4 separate regions of the Homo sapiens genome follow, and all the other regions are reported to be linked to region 2. Evidence: microRNA targets listed by miRTarBase, many of them from high-throughput screens and not tested one by one. Region 2 holds a microRNA gene; each other region holds the end of a gene's coding sequence.
The links. Region 2 holds the annotated microRNA hsa-miR-3529-3p (AACAACAAAAUCACUAGUCUUCCA, at 2,030-2,053, shown strand). A microRNA usually pairs through its seed, bases 2 to 8, with sites in the 3' UTR of a target mRNA and lowers its output. Matches are read on the target gene's strand: a 7mer-m8 pairs with bases 2 to 8, a 7mer-A1 pairs with bases 2 to 7 and ends in A, and an 8mer does both.

Region 1: the mRNA of DIP2C is a reported target of hsa-miR-3529-3p. Seed matches in the 3' UTR shown: 7mer-A1 at 2,688-2,694 and 7mer-m8 at 1,683-1,689.
Region 3: miRTarBase lists FYTTD1 as a target of hsa-miR-3529-3p. Seed matches in the 3' UTR shown: 7mer-m8 at 1,876-1,882, 7mer-A1 at 2,028-2,034 and 7mer-m8 at 2,246-2,252.
Region 4: the mRNA of ZNF614 is a reported target of hsa-miR-3529-3p. Seed matches in the 3' UTR shown: 7mer-m8 at 1,480-1,486.

The regions. Positions count from the first base shown.
Region 1 is chr10:273,811-278,073 of GRCh38, forward strand. It overlaps DIP2C (disco interacting protein 2 homolog C), which reads right to left. Exons shown (of 37, transcript NM_014974.3): 37 at 391-3,767. The coding sequence ends at 3,515. Among named protein-coding and RNA genes, the nearest start is that of ZMYND11, 140 kb to the left of the region's middle.
Region 2 is chr15:88,609,646-88,613,908 of GRCh38, reverse strand. It overlaps MIR3529 (microRNA 3529), which reads left to right and starts at 1,985; the gene lies at 1,985-2,062. It overlaps MIR7-2 (microRNA 7-2), which reads right to left and starts at 2,084; the gene lies at 1,975-2,084. It also overlaps a transcript of AEN not described here. RefSeq lists an enhancer at 191-875.
Region 3 is chr3:197,781,149-197,785,411 of GRCh38, forward strand. It overlaps FYTTD1 (forty-two-three domain containing 1), which reads left to right. Exons shown (of 9, transcript NM_032288.7): 9 at 663-4,263. The coding sequence ends at 761. Among named protein-coding and RNA genes, the nearest start is that of LRCH3, 8.0 kb to the right of the region's middle. RefSeq lists an enhancer at 1,291-1,490.
Region 4 is chr19:52,012,117-52,016,364 of GRCh38, reverse strand. It overlaps ZNF614 (zinc finger protein 614), which reads left to right. Exons shown (of 5, transcript NM_025040.4): 5 at 1-3,041. The coding sequence ends at 525. The region is part of intron 1 of LOC124904755 (a long non-coding RNA gene); the gene reads right to left. Among named protein-coding and RNA genes, the nearest start is that of ZNF615, 6.0 kb to the right of the region's middle.

The DNA of each region.
Region 1 (4,263 bases), not on the chromosome of region 2:
CCAGGATGGTCTCAATCTCCTGACCTCGTGATCCGCCCAACTCGGCCTCCCAAATTGCTGGGATTACAGGCGTGAGCCACGGTGCCCGGCCCTAGCTCCATTGATTTTTCTTGTGAATAAACACTTATCTTCATGGAACCACTAGTCTGAAGGCCAGTTGATCTGCTACTGCTTTCCCAAAGACAAAGCCATAAGAATTCCCAGATCTTGGGCAAAAGATGCAGCTTTTGGTTGTCAAATGGATAAAGACAATTTGGGGTGGAACAGTCAAGTACTCGTACTTCCTGACACGCAAAGGTTCCCTACGATACAGCTGATAGAAAGCATTTGCACACAGGACTCACGCTGTTTGTCCCCAAATTACCAATAATCTGTACACTTGCAGCAAAATGTGAACAAATATATTTAGATATATTTAAAAGAATTAAAAAAAACATTTCACAAAACATTTGTTGCCATAGGAATTATTTTTAGCAATAAATGCCCACATCAAAATTTAAACATTTTTCAAAGTATGATTATCTGTACTAAGTAATGCAACAAATTATGTAAACAGAGTCAGATACATTTCCCTGTAGGAGTCACTTCCTTCCCGGGATTAAAGCTGTCCCAGACATCTTTCCAGGGGACCAATTAAGAAACTGCTATTTTCAGAGCAACAAAAATAAAAGCTTTTATTTGTTCATTTGAATATAAAACAGGCGTTATCACAGATGTACAAAGCGTACTGGTGGTTTAACATACAAGAAGGTTGCTGTCCTTTGCACATAAAAATTTTGTTTGAAACTGTGGCTGGTTGAGTACATGAGTTTCTCTAACCAGTCACCACACTCTGAAATAACGCTGCTAACATTCAACTGATAAAAGGGACCATCTCCCTTGGGTAAAGTGTCAAGCAGGATTAAATATATATAATAAACAAGCACCATGAGGAATCTGCTCCTGTTTGATTAGGTCTGTGTTTATATGTTCACTGTGTACCCTCTTTTTGTGCAAGTTGATTACACGGTTTTGTCTGACTTCAAAAGCACAAGGTCACAAGACAAACATTTTTTACAATCTCATGAATGATTTATCTACAGTACAATTTTGAATACAGAATGACCCTTCTTTATTGCTGAAACTGGTGGTACTAAGTGTCTCCTTTCCTTTCTCTTGCACAACCAAATTTCAATCTCAGTCCACCAACTCTTTTGAGCCTAAACTCTAACTAATCAGAGTTGACAGGATGCAGAAGAGGCGGCTGCTAACTGCCCTCACAACTGCACTGCAGCGTCCACACTCCTTGAATGTAGAGTTGATCTGGTGACAGTTGAAATTATGTTTGAAGTGACATCTACATTTGTTTTGCTTCCTGACTTCAGCTGGACCTCAAAGCTGTCCTGCACACTGCAGCTAATGTTTCATAGTCAGTGCCTGGCCTGAAGCCCCAAACCTACCTCCCTTTCAACAAGGTGGGTGGGTGTAGGAAAATGTCTTTTTTCCCCCCAATGTGTGGTGGTTCCCCCCTTAGGAAGCAGAGACTAGGAATGTGCATCTGAAGCATGTGGAGAAATATTCACACACAGCAATGAGGTCAAACAATATTTCAAGAATCAAATGGTTTGTGGAGATGGAAGGATGCACCACATATGCAGACACATTTTTTTAAATGTGCCACTTTTTTTTTTTTTTTTTTTTTAACAACAATCAGCCTTGGATCTCAGAAGTCAAACAAAACTCTTTTAGCAAAAGGCTTACTGCTGACTGCATATAGCAAAGGCAGAGAAAGACGCTGCCCACAACATAATGAAAGATCATCTACATTTTGCCCAGCATCAATCTTAGTCATGCATATCTAGCACCGAGAGCCACTGCGGGGTCACACTGGGGCAGTTACAGAACACATCTTTCTCGGAGTGCAGATGCTCCTTCTTGGTTGGACACCGTGGGCCAATTCAATTTAGAAGTGCACAGGTGAGCTCTGAGAAGGTGTGGCCAGGAGCTGCCAGGGCAGAAACTGGGGCGCACTCGTCCACAGGCGGCAAACGACGCAGCTGGAGGACTTCTTGCTTCAGCCGGAGCTCTGGCATGAACCCCCGGGGAACTGTGCTCACTGAGCGAGGGAGCCCCAGAGGCTCACACAGAGCGGGCTGGGTCTTAAGACGAGGGGACGATCACCGATGTGAGTTCCGGACACTTTGTCCACTCCACATTGGCCATCAGAGGGGGAATCAATGCAACCCAGTGCGAATGACCACAGAATCGCATTCCTTTTCGTAGCAAGGACCAAAAAAAGATGACATTAACAAAAATGATGAAAAACATTGTGCAATGAATTCTTGCAGCTAAGAAAACAGTGCTATTTGCCAACCTAAAGCCCCTCAGTATCATCAGCACACGCTGGCATAAACACATTCACTGTTGTCCCACAGCAAAGAAAAAAATAGTGCACATTGAGCTTTGAATTCTTTTGCCATCCTTGAGATGGCAATAATTTCACTTGCTGGTCTCTGGTTCTAGAAGAAACTTTTAGACAGGGCTCCTGCGGTCTGCGACTGCTGGCAACAGCAGAGTGTATGTGAGTACGGGGGGCACACCATGCAAGTGACAAGTTCTGCATCTTAAACTTTAAAATCTCCTTTGTTCATTAGTGAATTTATATTTCATATATATATATTTGTTGTGATACTATCCACGCAAGATAATACAACACTTTTTTATATTAGCAAACATTACAAGACTTTAATATTCTTGAATGTTTTTCTCTTTTATAGTTCTAAAGAGATCAAAATAAATTAAACGTTTTGTACATAATTACATATTGAGGAAGTTAACTTATTTTATCTTTTTAGTTTAGTACAAAGATATTTGCAAGATAATTGCCGAAATACACCTTATTTATAATTTCTTCTCATTCTATACTAACTTCGAAGGCCGTATACCAGCCTTTGTTTCTTCAGCACATTTCTGACAAAGAAAGCTGCTATTATCTAATTGGAAGGTGCTATTTGGAAGGTTTTCTCGTACCTCAAACTTTCCTAAAAGGATGAGATCTAGCAATGGCTTAAATTAGTAACAGATCCATGTCATTAAGATTTCATGACACATTAAAACAGAGAAAACAATTCTTTGTCACACTACATAAATTGTTTAAAAGAACCCATCTGGAGGGCAGGATATTTTTTTAATTGCTATTTCGGCTTAACAAAATACCACATTTACGAAGAAAGCACTTATTATCCAATAATTAAAAAAGAAAGAAAAGAAAAGAAAGTTTTGAAATGGGCTTTTCCAACAAACTGAAGGCAGTAATCCAAAGTCCTTCTGAGCGAAATTCAGTGGTAAATTCACATTTCACCCCCATGCCAATCGTGGCTGCTGTGAGAAGTCCTCTTCCTCCTCCTCTTCCTCCTCCACTCTCACCACAAATGGCTGTATTCTGGTGAGTGTTGCCCTGTGTCTGCACGCTTCAGTGGACACGGAGAACAATGTCTACATCTCTAGAAAAGTCCATGGAAGCCAAGAGACGAGACTACATGTTGTAGGCCACATAGATGGGGTCTAGCTGGTCTGCCAAAAACCCGTCTCGCAGGTGCATGCGCTGCTTCTCCCCACGGGAGTTGATGGGGATGACGCCGATGTCCACCACGACCACCACTCCGACGATCAGGTAGTGCTCCTCCAGGACCACGTTGGTCACCAAGGGAACCAGGTCCAAGGCTTCTTGTTCCGACCCATCCAGCTCAACCACAACCACCAACAAATTTGTCCAGGTAAACACAGCACTAAAAGACAGAAAAGAAAGCCATCATTATATGTTTATTAATGCTTTATTTAATAGCCGTGGTTTCAAAGTTCCACTTGGCTCTCTCTGACCTGCCTGAGCACTGCCCGACAGTCTCCTCCGGCCTCTCCACGTCCTCCGTCTGCCGCCCACTAATCGTTCCCCATACAGACTTCCTGGCGACAGCACCTGTCGGTGTTTCCTACCAGCCTTCTCTCTCGGTGGCTTCTGCGACTGTTTCACCATCTTCCCGAGTTCCCATTTCTAGCACAGCATCACTCCACCTGGCCAGCGGAGTCTGTGTTCCAGTGCTGCCTCTTTGCTGCTGCCTGGAGGACCAATGCCCTCACTGAACAGTGCAGTGTGCCATCAGCCTCGTACCCTCAAGGCAGCCCTGTGCCTCCTGCTTCCAGACCCCCAGCTCTGCTGCTGAGGGCCGTGCGTGCGGAGGCCGAGGGCAGGGGTGCCTACTCCTCTCTGTCTGTGCGGTGGCCCCG
Region 2 (4,263 bases):
GGACAACCATGAAAACTATGAAAGAAAAGGCAGAAGAGACCAATATTGGGTATATACCCATGCTATTTTATATTATGACACTTCACTTGCCTACTTATCGTAATAACCTAGCAAGGTAGATGTGATCAATTCTGTTTCACAGTTGAGGAATCTGAGACTCAGAGATGTTAAGTGACTGACTCAAAGTCACACAGCTCGTAAGCAGTGGAGCCAAGATTGAAACTGGCACATGTTTGACTTCAGAGCCAGGACTCCCCCCACCACTTAACAAAGGCTGTCATATCCATCCCTCAAATCAGGAATGCACCCCACATCCCCCCCCGAGATGCTTGTTTCACTGAGACACAATCTCTCCCCGTTCCATCTCCAAACCAGCCCCAGAGGCTGAGGGCTGCCCAGGAGAGACTCAACTCCCCTCCTCTCCTGTTCTCCAGCTCTGCCCTTCCTGCCCAATCTGGGCTTCTCTCCCGCTGTGAAGGACAGATACCTGCTGAGTGACACCAATTTGCAGACTTCTGAAGTGTAAATGAGATTTCTAATAGGACTGGCTTCCCACTGGCTTCAGGCAGGGTTAGGAGTAAAGGGAAATTTAAGACTGGAAGTGCAGAAGAAGAGAGCCAGTTTGTAGGATAGGGAGCAGCAGAAGCAGAGGCAGCCAAAGTCTCTGGGTAGAAGTGAAGGGCTGACTTGGTTCAGAGAGGTCAAGTGCCTTGCCAGAGGTCACACAGCTAGCAACCGGAAGAGGTAGAATGAGCTCAGCTAATGGTTGCATTTTTAGCATTCCCTAAATGAGTACGATCCCCAACCCCCAACTTTAGTTTGTAATATGCTTTAGTCTCCTCTGCTGTATGGATGGAGGAGGGTGGGAATATACTTAGGAATAGGGAGGGCATTTGGATTTGTTGCTTGAAAATTAATCTCCACTGAAAGTGTCATCACTGTAACTTGGTGCTCACCTTAGGGCAAGGTACCCCCCAGGCAGAGGGATCCCAGGCAGAAAGGCTGGGAGGCCAGGCAAGGTGGCTGATGCCTATACTCCCAGCACTTTGGGAGACCGAGGTGGGCAGATCCCCTGACGTCACGAGTTCGAGACCAGCCTGACCAACATAGCAAACCCCTCTCTCTACCAAAAATACAAAAAATTAGCTGAGTTGGTGGCATTCACCTGTAATCCCAGCTAGTCGGGAGGCTGAGGCACAAGAATCACTTGAACCCAGGAGGTGGAGGTTGCAGTGAGTCAGGACTGTACCACTGCACTCCAGCCTGGGACAGAGTGAGACTCTGTCTCAAAAATAAATAAATAAATAAATAAATAAATAAATAAATAAATAAATAAAAGGCTGGGAAATGCTTTTTCTGATCACTAATTCTAATTGTATTCCTGCCACAGTGGGGGATGGTCCCCAAGCACTGGGCTTTTTTCCCTTGGCCACACCTCTGGATGTAGCAGCACAGAGGCAGGTACTGGGACCAAGAAATTCCATACACACAAGTCCACTCCCTCAGCTGTGGAGCAGGCACCAGACAAGCTCCGAGGTCAGGTGTGTCCCCCCTGCTGCCAGGTACACTGAACATCCGGGAACCTCGGTCTCCAGTGCATACCTCTCGGTGCCCGCATACACTGTGGCTGTCGGGCCACAGACAATGAGGCCCTGAGCCCCAGGATGTGGAGTCACAAGGTGCCTCCATTATAGGTGCCCCAAAGTGATTGTTGGGGGAATTAGTAATTAAGGAGGGTTTTTCTCCCCCTGCCCTTCAGGTAGTGGTATGGAAGCAGTCCACTGCTCCCTGAAAACAGAGACCCTGCCCCACTTCCCTGCTCACACCATAGTTTGTCCATGTTTCTGGAAGAGTCTGCCGATGGGTGTTTAGGGTGGTGACCTGAGATGTTTTCTAGGAAACACAAAAGATACAAAAAAGAACACGTGGAAGGATAGCCAAAAAGGGGGGCTGCCCCCATTTCCTGCACCCCGCTGCGATGGCTGGCACCATTAGGTAGACTGGGATTTGTTGTTGAGCGCAGTAAGACAACAACAAAATCACTAGTCTTCCAGATGGGGCCAGCCGGTCCACTCTGTATCCAGGCCAGTTCTGCAAGGCGTTCGAGGACCACCCCCCTCCCCTCGCCACCAGGTCAGCGGTCTGGATGCTCCTTCAGGCGAGGCGTTGTCTCCGCTCCTATTACTAAGTTCATCTTTGAACACCTCTCCTCACCTCAGAATTCCCTGGAGAAATTATTTTTTCTTACTTTTCCCTTTTTTCTGGAGTGTTCTACTTTCTATAATGGACACAGTTGTTTTGTTTTGTTTTGGTGAGACAGGGTCTTGCTCTGTCACCCAGGCTGTAGTGCAGTGGTGCAATCACAGCTCACTCCAGCTTCAACCTTCCAGACTCGAGTGTTCAAGTGATTCTTCCACCTCAGCCTCCCTAGTAGCTGAGACTACAGCTAATTTTTTTTTTTTTTTTTTTTTTTTTAGTAAAGACAAGGTCTCAGTATATTGCCCAGGCTGGTCTTGAACTCCTGGGCTCAAGTGATCCTCCTGCCTCAGCCTCTCAAAGTGCTGGGATTATAGACGTGAGCCACTGCACCCAATTTGAGCATATTTCCTTTACAAACAGGGGAATTATTTTTAAAGAGAAGCAGGCAAGTGGCTCATTTCTCTCTTTCCTTTACTAATCATAAAGCATTGAACCACCATGCAGAAGAGAAACTAGAGCTTGGAAATGGTGACCCCTCTCTACTGGTGCCTCCCCCTTCTGGAAGCCTATGGGCATGGCCCATGGTGAAAATTCTTCCTGTGGTTACTGAGCCCTGGAAGCTTCAGAATGAAGTCAGAGTGGTGGTGCTGGGGTAAGCAGAGCAGGAAGAGGAAAAGGGGAAATGGTTGTGGACAGGAGGCTGGTGGAATCCTGGCCCAGTCATCCCCTCCCTGCAGGCACAGCGCTGGGCTCCCTGGTTAATTTCCCTTGCAGTGTGGCACTGGTGGAGGAGAGGCAAAGCCCCTGCTGCCTGGGCCAGCCTCTAATTGCGCTGGCAGGACACATCCGCTCCTTAATTAGCAAAAGCCACAATATCCTGGCGGCTCAGAGAGCATGGCCCTAATTGTATTTCTGCAGCAACTGAAGGATAATTACCCTTCCCTATTGGTGCTGCTTTTAATTCTTTCTCTTTTTAATTGTGAGCACTTCCTCTTTAGCCCACCCTTCCATCCTTGGGTTTATTCTCTCTATCCAGAATGGGGGTGGGGGCTTGCCTGGTGATGGAGACGCTCAGGAGCAGGAGGAGTGGGGGGAGTCATGGAGAAGACTGGCAATACCTAGCTCTGAGTCCCAGCCCCTTCCAGCTGTCAGCCTGAGACAGGGCACATCTCTGCCATGGGTCTGAGAAAAACCAAGAAGTTCTTTTGTGGAAGATGTAAGGGAGAGGTGTTCCTCCCCCAGAGGCTCTTTATGACCCTCTTCAGTCTACCCCGCAGTGAGGTGCTGGCTCTGAAATTCCCAGCTGTAGAAAACTGAGACCTCCTTTCCCCATCCTTTAATCTATCAAGAAACAGAGATGGATGTGTGGTCTTTAATTTCTTTTACAAAAAAAAAAAAAAAATAGCCCCGTGCCTCTTTGCCACTGTTGAGAGGAGGGTTAGTCCTTCAACCTTGAATTGTTTTAGAGACAAGGACCTGAGGGTACCATTAGAGAACAATGCTAACTAAGGTAACCCCTTGGTTAATAGGAGAGCTTAGCACCCTAGGTATTTCTAGGAAAAACAGGCCTTTCTTAGGGACCTGGCAAATAAACTTTGAGAAGTAATAGACAAGCTAAAATGCACCACAAAGAGAGTTTGGAGAGAACCACAGCATCTCTCTGGATGTCAGCTTGCAGGACTGACTGATCTAGCTTACATGAGCAACCCTGGCCCTAAAGCCACCACCCAAACCACTGCCCTGCTAGAAGCTCACTATGAGAGCAGGGACTCTCACTCATTATTCTTCCAAGTGCCTCGCGCACAGCCTGGCCCGTGATAAATGAAACTGGTTGGCAAAGAAGCAGAGTTCAGAGACAGAGTAGGATTGTGAGGTGTGAACAGGGTAAATCCATTTTCATTGGCTTTTTCCTTACAGATCCAATGAAGATGAATTTGAACTGATTGTGGCCCTAGTTTTCAAAATTCTTTAATTCTGGGCTCTATCTGAATTGGGAGAAGATGCAAGCAATAAAAGAGGCTGCTGTAGTCTCAAAGAAATATATTTTGAAAAAATGACCTGCCC
Region 3 (4,263 bases), not on the chromosome of region 2:
ACTAAAAATAAAAAAATTAGCCGGGTGTGGTAGCACGTGCCTGTAATCCCAGCTACTCGGGAGGCTGAGGTGGGAGAATTGCTTGAACCCAGGAGGCGGAAGTTGCAATGAGCTGAGATTGTGCCACTGCACTCCAGCCTGGATGACAGCCAGACTGTCTCAATAAAAAAAAAAAAAAAATTTTGACCAAATTTGTTTTGCTTATTTTTATTTTGTTGCTATTATTGTTTTCCAGAAATGGTATAGTTTGTAGATGCTGTTGTTAATAAAAAAAAAAACAGATTTTCATTTGAATTTGATTTGAATTTCTGTGTTGAACTCACCGTAATTCAAGAAAATTTGCTATAAAATATTTACAGGTCTGAAGAGTTCTTACTTTTATCAGTGACATCATGAGTTGGTGGCAGTGTTTACAGAGCCTGAAAATAATTCAGATAGGGGCTTTGGGTGTATGACTTCTAGGCATTATAGCATATGTGTGTTTTATATAGTATATAATGTAGGCTTTATATGAGGTCATACATGTAAATATTTAGGAAATTTTAGCTGTCATTACTTGTAATTAATCATAAGATCACATTATTGTTCCAAAGCAAATATGGCCTTCAGTAAAGTTGTTAATTGTTGCTTTGTTGTTGTTTTTGTTTTTTTCTTTTCTCTAGACAGGGATGACGTTGAATGAGCGGTTTGGGATCCTGAAGGAACAAAGAGCCACTCTCACATACAACAAAGGGGGAAGCCGCTTTGTCACCGTGGGATAGGTCCCATGTCAAAGGAACTTTTGAGTGATGACTCTGAGAAGTTGAATTGCTTGAAGAGTTCATCACGGAAATTCAAGAAACTTTACTTCAAAATATTCACAAGGCTAAATAACTCTTATTTTTATTTTTGAAGGTTTTTTTTTTTAAAAAAAAAAACGTATAAAATAATGCCCTGAAAGAATAATAGGGATTATACCTGTCTGTTCTTAAAGATTTCATGGTTGGCTCAGACAGAACAATCATCTGTTTGACTTCTTTGGTTCCTCATGCAGCAGAAGGAAGACAGAAAGATAGAAATTGATTATTTTTATGATAGCAGTATTCAGGATCTCATCACCTTTGCCCGTGTTTTAGACTTTGTCATGGTAAATCCTGGTCTTCATAAACATGAGTAGGTCCCTTGGTTGCTGTCACTTGCCCTTTAATAGTGTTGATGTAGTCAGTGCCGTTGCCTTTTCTTCATTAGAGACACAGAACAATGTATTAGAATTTCCAGCTGTGGGTTTGAAGACTTAGGGGGACATCCAGAACGTGCTTCCTCTTTCAGACGGTGTAAAGTCCCCTGGAATTACACAGCTTTAGTGCTGAGCTTTTAACAGGAAATGTGGCCCTAGGTATTAGTCTTAGTTTAAAATGTTGGTGTTTAGAGACTGTAAATGCATATTCACAAAGTTATCTGATAGGGCCTTGGAGGAGAAGGTCCAGTTTTAAAAAATGACAGTTTGTGTTTAATAAATGAAGGCATGAGAGGAAGTAAGTAGCAAGTTGAAGGACAGGTAGTTGAGATGAAACACTTCAAAACCCTGGTTATAGATGTACTGTTTGGATGTAGCATAGTCTTGAGTCTAGCGTCCACAAAGAATTATTCAAATGATATTTAGAAGAATTATAACTATTACATTGAATGGAGTCCCTTGGATATTTTGATAGTAAAATTAATAGCCATAAAGTCCTAGACTTCTTATTTGAAGTTAAAATTTCTTATTTGAAAAGTTGAAATTTATGAGCTTTGAAGATTGCTAAATTAAATAATTTATAGCTCCAAAAACAAAAATATACTTGTATATGTCACAGAGAAAAAAAATGCAAAATTTATAATAGAGTTACATTAACCTTGTTGTTTACCTTTCACTGATTTCTTATATGGTATAAATTAAAGTTCAGGCATTTATGGGGAGAAAAGGCCCTCCCCACCGACCCGCCACCTGCCACCTCTGACGGAGTGGGAGAAGTTAGTCTGTGCTAAGATAGTACTGAGTCCCCAGATGTTGTATACTGTAAATTACAGTATAATGCCAAATGCAGCAAAATCTTCCAGCTGTACGTTACAAGTTTGGTCATTTTGAAGCTTGACATTTTAGTTTGCCATTATGTTAAAAACATCTAAATAGGTGTTAGTTTCTCAGGAGTAGATTGTTAGTGTTGACTTTTCCTGTAAAGCAGACATCGTTCTTGGCCTGCCCTGCATTGTATACTAGATTTCATTGTTGTCTCTCATGCTTCTTGAGTTGCTTCATGGTTTATGCTCGCCATGGAAAGCTATCAGTAACAGTTTCATGCTTATACCAAAGAATTAAATCTGATCTTTAATATCTGATATTTTCCTGGTACTCGTACTGATAAGGGATTATTGGAAGTCAGTCACAGAATTTGGAAATAAATTCTAGTCTCTCCTTAGCTATTTGATGCTTTTCATATAGGCCAAGAACTCATTGCAAAACATTTTTGCAAGGATGAATGCCTGTATTTGGTCTAGGAACAGTACATTTTAGTCTGATTTAGAATTACTGGTAGCTTATTTTAAAGCAAGGAAAAGCAGCTGAGCTCAAGTTTGCTGTCTTTAGAATGGTTTGTGAAAATATGGTATAAAGGTGTTTTCATTTTCCTGTTCTTACCTATTATTGTATAGAGCTATTCATGCCATTTTTTGGGAAAACTTTAAAAATTGCCCCAAATACTGACATTGAGTGCATTAAATAACAAATTATCTTTGATACATTAAACTTTTATTCTTCATGCATCTGTAATTTAATTTTAAGTATAATGTTTTGCCTTTGGTACAACTAAATTAAAACTCTTGGTGGTCACATATTGTATATAAACAAAACAATATGCTTTGTTGAAGGAAAATTTTCTTTATTGGAATGTGGTTGTAATCCTTGTTCAGTTCTTAAGTTTCGGTTTTTTTTAAAAACAGGATGCAACTTAAACTTTTCTTTGCATCAAGGTATATGCAAAACATTGGTGCCGTGCATCACCAAATGAAAGTTTGTATTTAACGAGGAGGTGCTTTACACTGTACTTTTTGGTGTTTTTTGGAAAAGTTACATTTAGATCTATTCTGAAGCTGTTCATTTTTAACAAATAAAATGTTACAGGTTTCACATGATTTATTCTCAGCTCTAAAGATTGAGTTGTGGTTTTTAGATTGTTCTATGTTACGAAGAACTTTGTAGTGGTTATCTATATTTGTAGTTTTTAGGGTGTGAAACCTTATCTACTAGCAAAATTGGTAAATCACTGTAGACTCTTCTATTAGCATCCCTCTCTCTTTTGATGATTTCATTTGTAGCTCCAACAAATGAATCTAAAAAGAAGAATCCAGGCTGGGCACGGTGGCTCATGCCTGTAATCCCAGAACTTGGGGAGGCCAAGGCGGGCGGATCATGAGGCCAGGAGCAAGACCAGCCTGGCTAACATAGGGAGACTCTATCTTTACTAAAAATACAGACATTAGCTGGTGTGGTGACATGTGCCTGTGGTCCCAGCTACTTGGGAGGCTGAGGCGGGAGAATTGCTTGAATCCAGGAAGCAGAGATTGCAGTGAGCCGAGACCACGCCATTGCACTCCAGCCTGGGTGACAGAGTGACACTCTGTCTTAAAAAAACAAAAAAAAAGAATCCAGTATACTTTGCAATGCAGAATATTGGGTTAGATGAGCCTTTAGAGACTAATCCAGTTTAACCCCTCCTTTTTACACCTTAGTAAAGTGAGTCCTAGTGTTTTCAAGACTTGCATGTGGCAGAGTTATTTTTTGAGCTCAGATCTTCTAATTCTTAATTGATAATAAACTGCTTTGGTGAATTAACACCCACAGAAAATAGTGGAATGGTGTGTGGTTTTCAAATACCTAAGAATTGGTAATAGCCATGCTTTAGCATTTTTAGCATGGTAAGTAAATCTATTCTACCAGTGATGGTTATACTTTATTACTTTGCTATTTGGGTTAGGTAGACCTGTTAGAAAAGTCCAGTGTTCCTAATCAGATATGCATTTTTTAAAAACAGGCATAAACTCTTCACCACAATTTTAATTACAGTCATCCCTCAGTATACACGGAGGATTGGTTCCAGGACCCTTGTATATACCCAACCCTGCGCAATACTGAAGTCCCACATCTGTGTAAACGAAAAGTTGGCCCACTGTGTACATGGATTTTCCATTCCAAGATGTTTTTTTGGTTCAAAACAATTTGCTTATAAGTAGACCCAGGTAATTCAA
Region 4 (4,248 bases), not on the chromosome of region 2:
CGCACTCTCGTTATACATCAGCGAACTCATACAGGAGAGAAATCTTACATATGCAATGAATGTGGTAAAGGCTTCACCACAAAGCGCACTCTTATTATACATCAGCGAACTCATACAGGAGAAAAACCCTATGAATGCAATGAATGTGGTAAAGCCTTCAGCCAGAAAATATGCCTCATACAACATGAGAGATGTCATACAGGAAAGACTCCCTTTGTATGTACCGAGTGCGGAAAATCCTATTCACACAAATATGGCCTCATTACCCATCAGAGAATTCACACAGGAGAGAAACCTTATGAGTGCAATGAATGTGGAAAAGCCTTCACCACAAAGTCAGTACTCAATGTACATCAAAGAACGCATACAGGAGAGAGGCCGTATGGATGCAGTGATTGTGAGAAAGCCTTCTCCCACTTATCAAACCTTGTCAAACATAAGAAAATGCACACAAGAGAAATGGGTAGAATCAGTCAAGTTGAAAACTCCTGTAATGGAGAGTCACAGCTCCTTCCTTATAAGTGAACTCATGCAGAAGAAAACCCTACTAGTGCCGTGACTATGGAAATGCCTTTTGTGGCAACTCAGACTTCATTAAACATCAGTGTGTTTCTAGCCAATTGGAACATAAACATGGTGCTGCCTGTTGACAGATGTGTGTCTGTCCTCAGGAGGTGAAATAATTTGCCCTAGAGATCAATTTGATGAATACAGTAAATAAGGTAGTGCCTTTAGTGGTCTTTTACCTCATATTTTCTGTCAATGAAAATACGTTGAATAAACTATATTAATGTGGAGATGTTTTGAGCAATAATTTCTGCTCATATGTCTGAAAAGTATACAGAGATAAATTCTGTGAATACAAAGACTAAGAAAAGTCTTCTGTGGAAAGATAGACTTTATTATCAGGTTTCATCATAGATTTCAACGTAAGTGAGCTTATTGTTGATAGAAACATGATGACCATGACAAAGTCTTTACTCAGAAATATGACCTCAGTGAGTGTCAAAGTTTACACTGGAAAATAACTTTAAGGTGACAGTATTGATGGCAGGATTTCAGCGACGCACTCTGCTTCATCATTTGTCAGGAGATCACATAGAAAGTAAAATTGTTCCGAACATGCTATCAAATAAATGTGGAACACCTTTAGCAAACTATCAACAGCTCATGAAGGCATGAAATGTGGTGAAAATGATGAATATTTGAGTGCTTTTTCTTAATAAGTATAACCTTAAACATCAGCTAATACACCTGGTGTGCATTTTCAGTCAGGATACCTTAATCCTCATTTCTAGTTGCCTTGCCAATGATTCCATAATATACTGTCTCATTACTGTTTATTTTTACTGTTGTGTAAAATTGTGGTATAATGAGAAATACATTTGGTCTTTGTTCCTGGTTCCTGGCATAGAGCTCCTAAAACGCTTAGAATTTCATGAGTGATAAGAGTTTTTTGGTTTTGTTTTGTTTTTGCTGTTGTTGTTATTCATAGCACTGCCCTTTTAATTACACCTGATTATACTACTGAAGTGACTTATGGTTGCTCCCCTAGACAGCCTCAGAATGGGGCTGTTCTCTAGGAAGATCAAGTAACTAGAGGATGGAGACTTTGTGCCCCATTTCTCCCACCTCCTGGAAGGGGAGGGGTGCTGGAGATTAGATTAGACAATGAGATTAAGAGAACTCCAAATAGCCCAAGAGGGTGGTGCACCCCCAACTTCATAGGGGTAGAGGCTCCTGAGATTAGGAGAACCCTTTTTAGGCTTTACTCTATGTACCTCTTCATTTGAGTGTTCATTTGCGTCCTTTATAACCAGTAAAACAAAGTACGCTGTTTTCTTGAGTTTTGTGAGCCCTGTAGCAAATTATCAAACCTGAGTAGGGCAGTGGGAACTCGGAATTTATCACCATTCAGAACTGCAGGTTGTCCTTGTGAGTGGCATCTGATGTGGGGGAAGTCTTGGACTGAGCCCCTTAACTTGTGGAGTCTGCACTAATTTAGACTGCACTAACTAACTTGCACTGCACTAACTTGGACTGCACTAACTTGTGGAGTCTGCACTAACTTGGAGAAGTTAGTGTCAGAATTGAATTATAGAACACCCAGTTGTTCAGAATTGAATTGTAGAACACCCAATTGGTGTGGGAGAATTAGAGAATTTATTTGTGTCAGAAAATACTCCAGAACAACCACCCCATATTATGATTAGCTCTTTTCCTTTCTTTGGCTCTGAGCTTAATTGTACATTAAGCAAACTTAAGTAGAAAAGAAACTGAATATGTTAAATATATTAACAACATATTTGGACTTGCTTAACTAAGATTATAGAGATGATCAGTTTATAAAACCACCTTCAACTTAAATAAATTTGAACTCGAAATTGCAAAAGCAGTCTAGAGGCTTTGCTAGTATCCTTCAACCAATTTCTAGTAAAAATATCCTATATAACCATAATTATCAAAACCAGAAAAACAACATTGGTAGGATACTATAAAGTACTAATCTTATTTTGGATTTGACGAATTTTTACATGTTTTTTTCTTTTTTAGTTTGTACTCTAAGAAGTTGTATTACATGTACAGATTCGTGTAACCACTGCAACCACATAAAACTAATGAACACAAAGTCCCTCATGCTACCTTTTTATGCTTACACTCCATCCAAACCTAACTCTGCCAACCACTTTTCTCCTATCAGTATAATTTCATCATTTCATGAATATGATAAAAATAAAATTGTTTTTGTAAATGGTTTTTATAAATTTTATATAAATAAGTTATATGAATTTTTATTGATAGAGAGTATGTAAGCTTTTGGCATTTTTGTCACTCAGCAAATTACTCCTAAGGTTTATATGAGTTGATGAATAGTTGTTTTATTATTTTTTTTTACCACCATGTATCTAACCAGATGAAAGTTGTTTATATTTGAGAGTAGTATACATATTTGATGTAGTAGTTTATCCATTCACCTATGAGATATATTTGCACTGTTTTCCTGGTTTTAAGTGCTATAAATAAAGATGCTGTGAAATCTACATACAGCTTTTGCTTTTGCTTTTTTTTTTTTAGGATTTACAATCTTAACCTCTTTTTTTTCTTTTTTAAGAGACAGGGTCTCTTGAGAGGCCGAGGCAGGCGGATCACTTGAGGTCAGAAGTTCAAGACCAGCCTGGCCAACGTGGCGAAACCCTGTGTCTACTAAAAATACACACAAAAAATTAGCTGGGTATGGTGCTGGGCTGTTGGGAGCCGAAGGCCCATGGGATGTGACCAACTCAGCATTCCACTGGAGGCTATATGATCAAACAGCAAACTTTATCATGAATGCACGATGTGGGCAAACTCATGACTGCTTCCGCTGCCAGAAGGTTTGCTGAGGGCAATCGCTTCCTGGTGCTGAGCTCCTTGAGGTTATCTACTGGGACATCTAGAGAATGCCATCTTGCAAACCCTACTCTGGACTGAGTAGCTGACCCCTTCTTCCACCCGCCTTCTCACTATCTCTTTTGCCTAATAAATATGGAGGGCTGTGTAAAGCTCAGGGCCCTTGTCCACTAGAGGCAAGGTGTCCCCTGATCCCTTCTTCCAAATATACTCTTTTGTCTCTTTTATTCCCGTTTCCCCCACTTTTTTCAGTCCCCCTAGGTCCTTGTGGGTTACGTAGTGGCGCCCCAAACAGTGACAGGATCGGGCGCTCTACAGTTGGCGCCTGTAATCCCAATTACTTGTGAGGCTGAGGCAGGAATCACTTGAACCTGGGAGGCAGAGGTTGCAGTGAGCTGAGATCCTGCCACTGCACTCCAGGCCTGGGCAACGGAATAGGCTCTGTCTGAAAAACAAACAAAAACAACAAAAAAAAGAGTCTCTGTTGCCTAGGCTGGAGTGCAGTGGTGCGATTATAGCTCACTGCAGCCTCAAACTCCTGGGTTCAAGTGTTCCTCCTGCGTCAGCCTCCCATGTAGGTGGGACTATGTGTGTGCACCCTCATGCCTGGCTTTTTTTTTTTTTTTTTTTTTTTTTGTAGAGACAGCATGTTTTAGGCCATTCTTGCATTGCTATAAATAAATACTTGAGGCTGGATAATTTATAAGAAAAGAGGTTTAATTGGCTTATGATTCTACAGGCTGTACAGGAAGCATAGCACTGGCATCTGGTCCTGGGGAGGCCTCAGGAAGCTTACAATCATGGTGGAAGGTGAAGAGGGAGCAGGAGTAAGACAGAGTGGAGGGGGTAGGTGCTGCA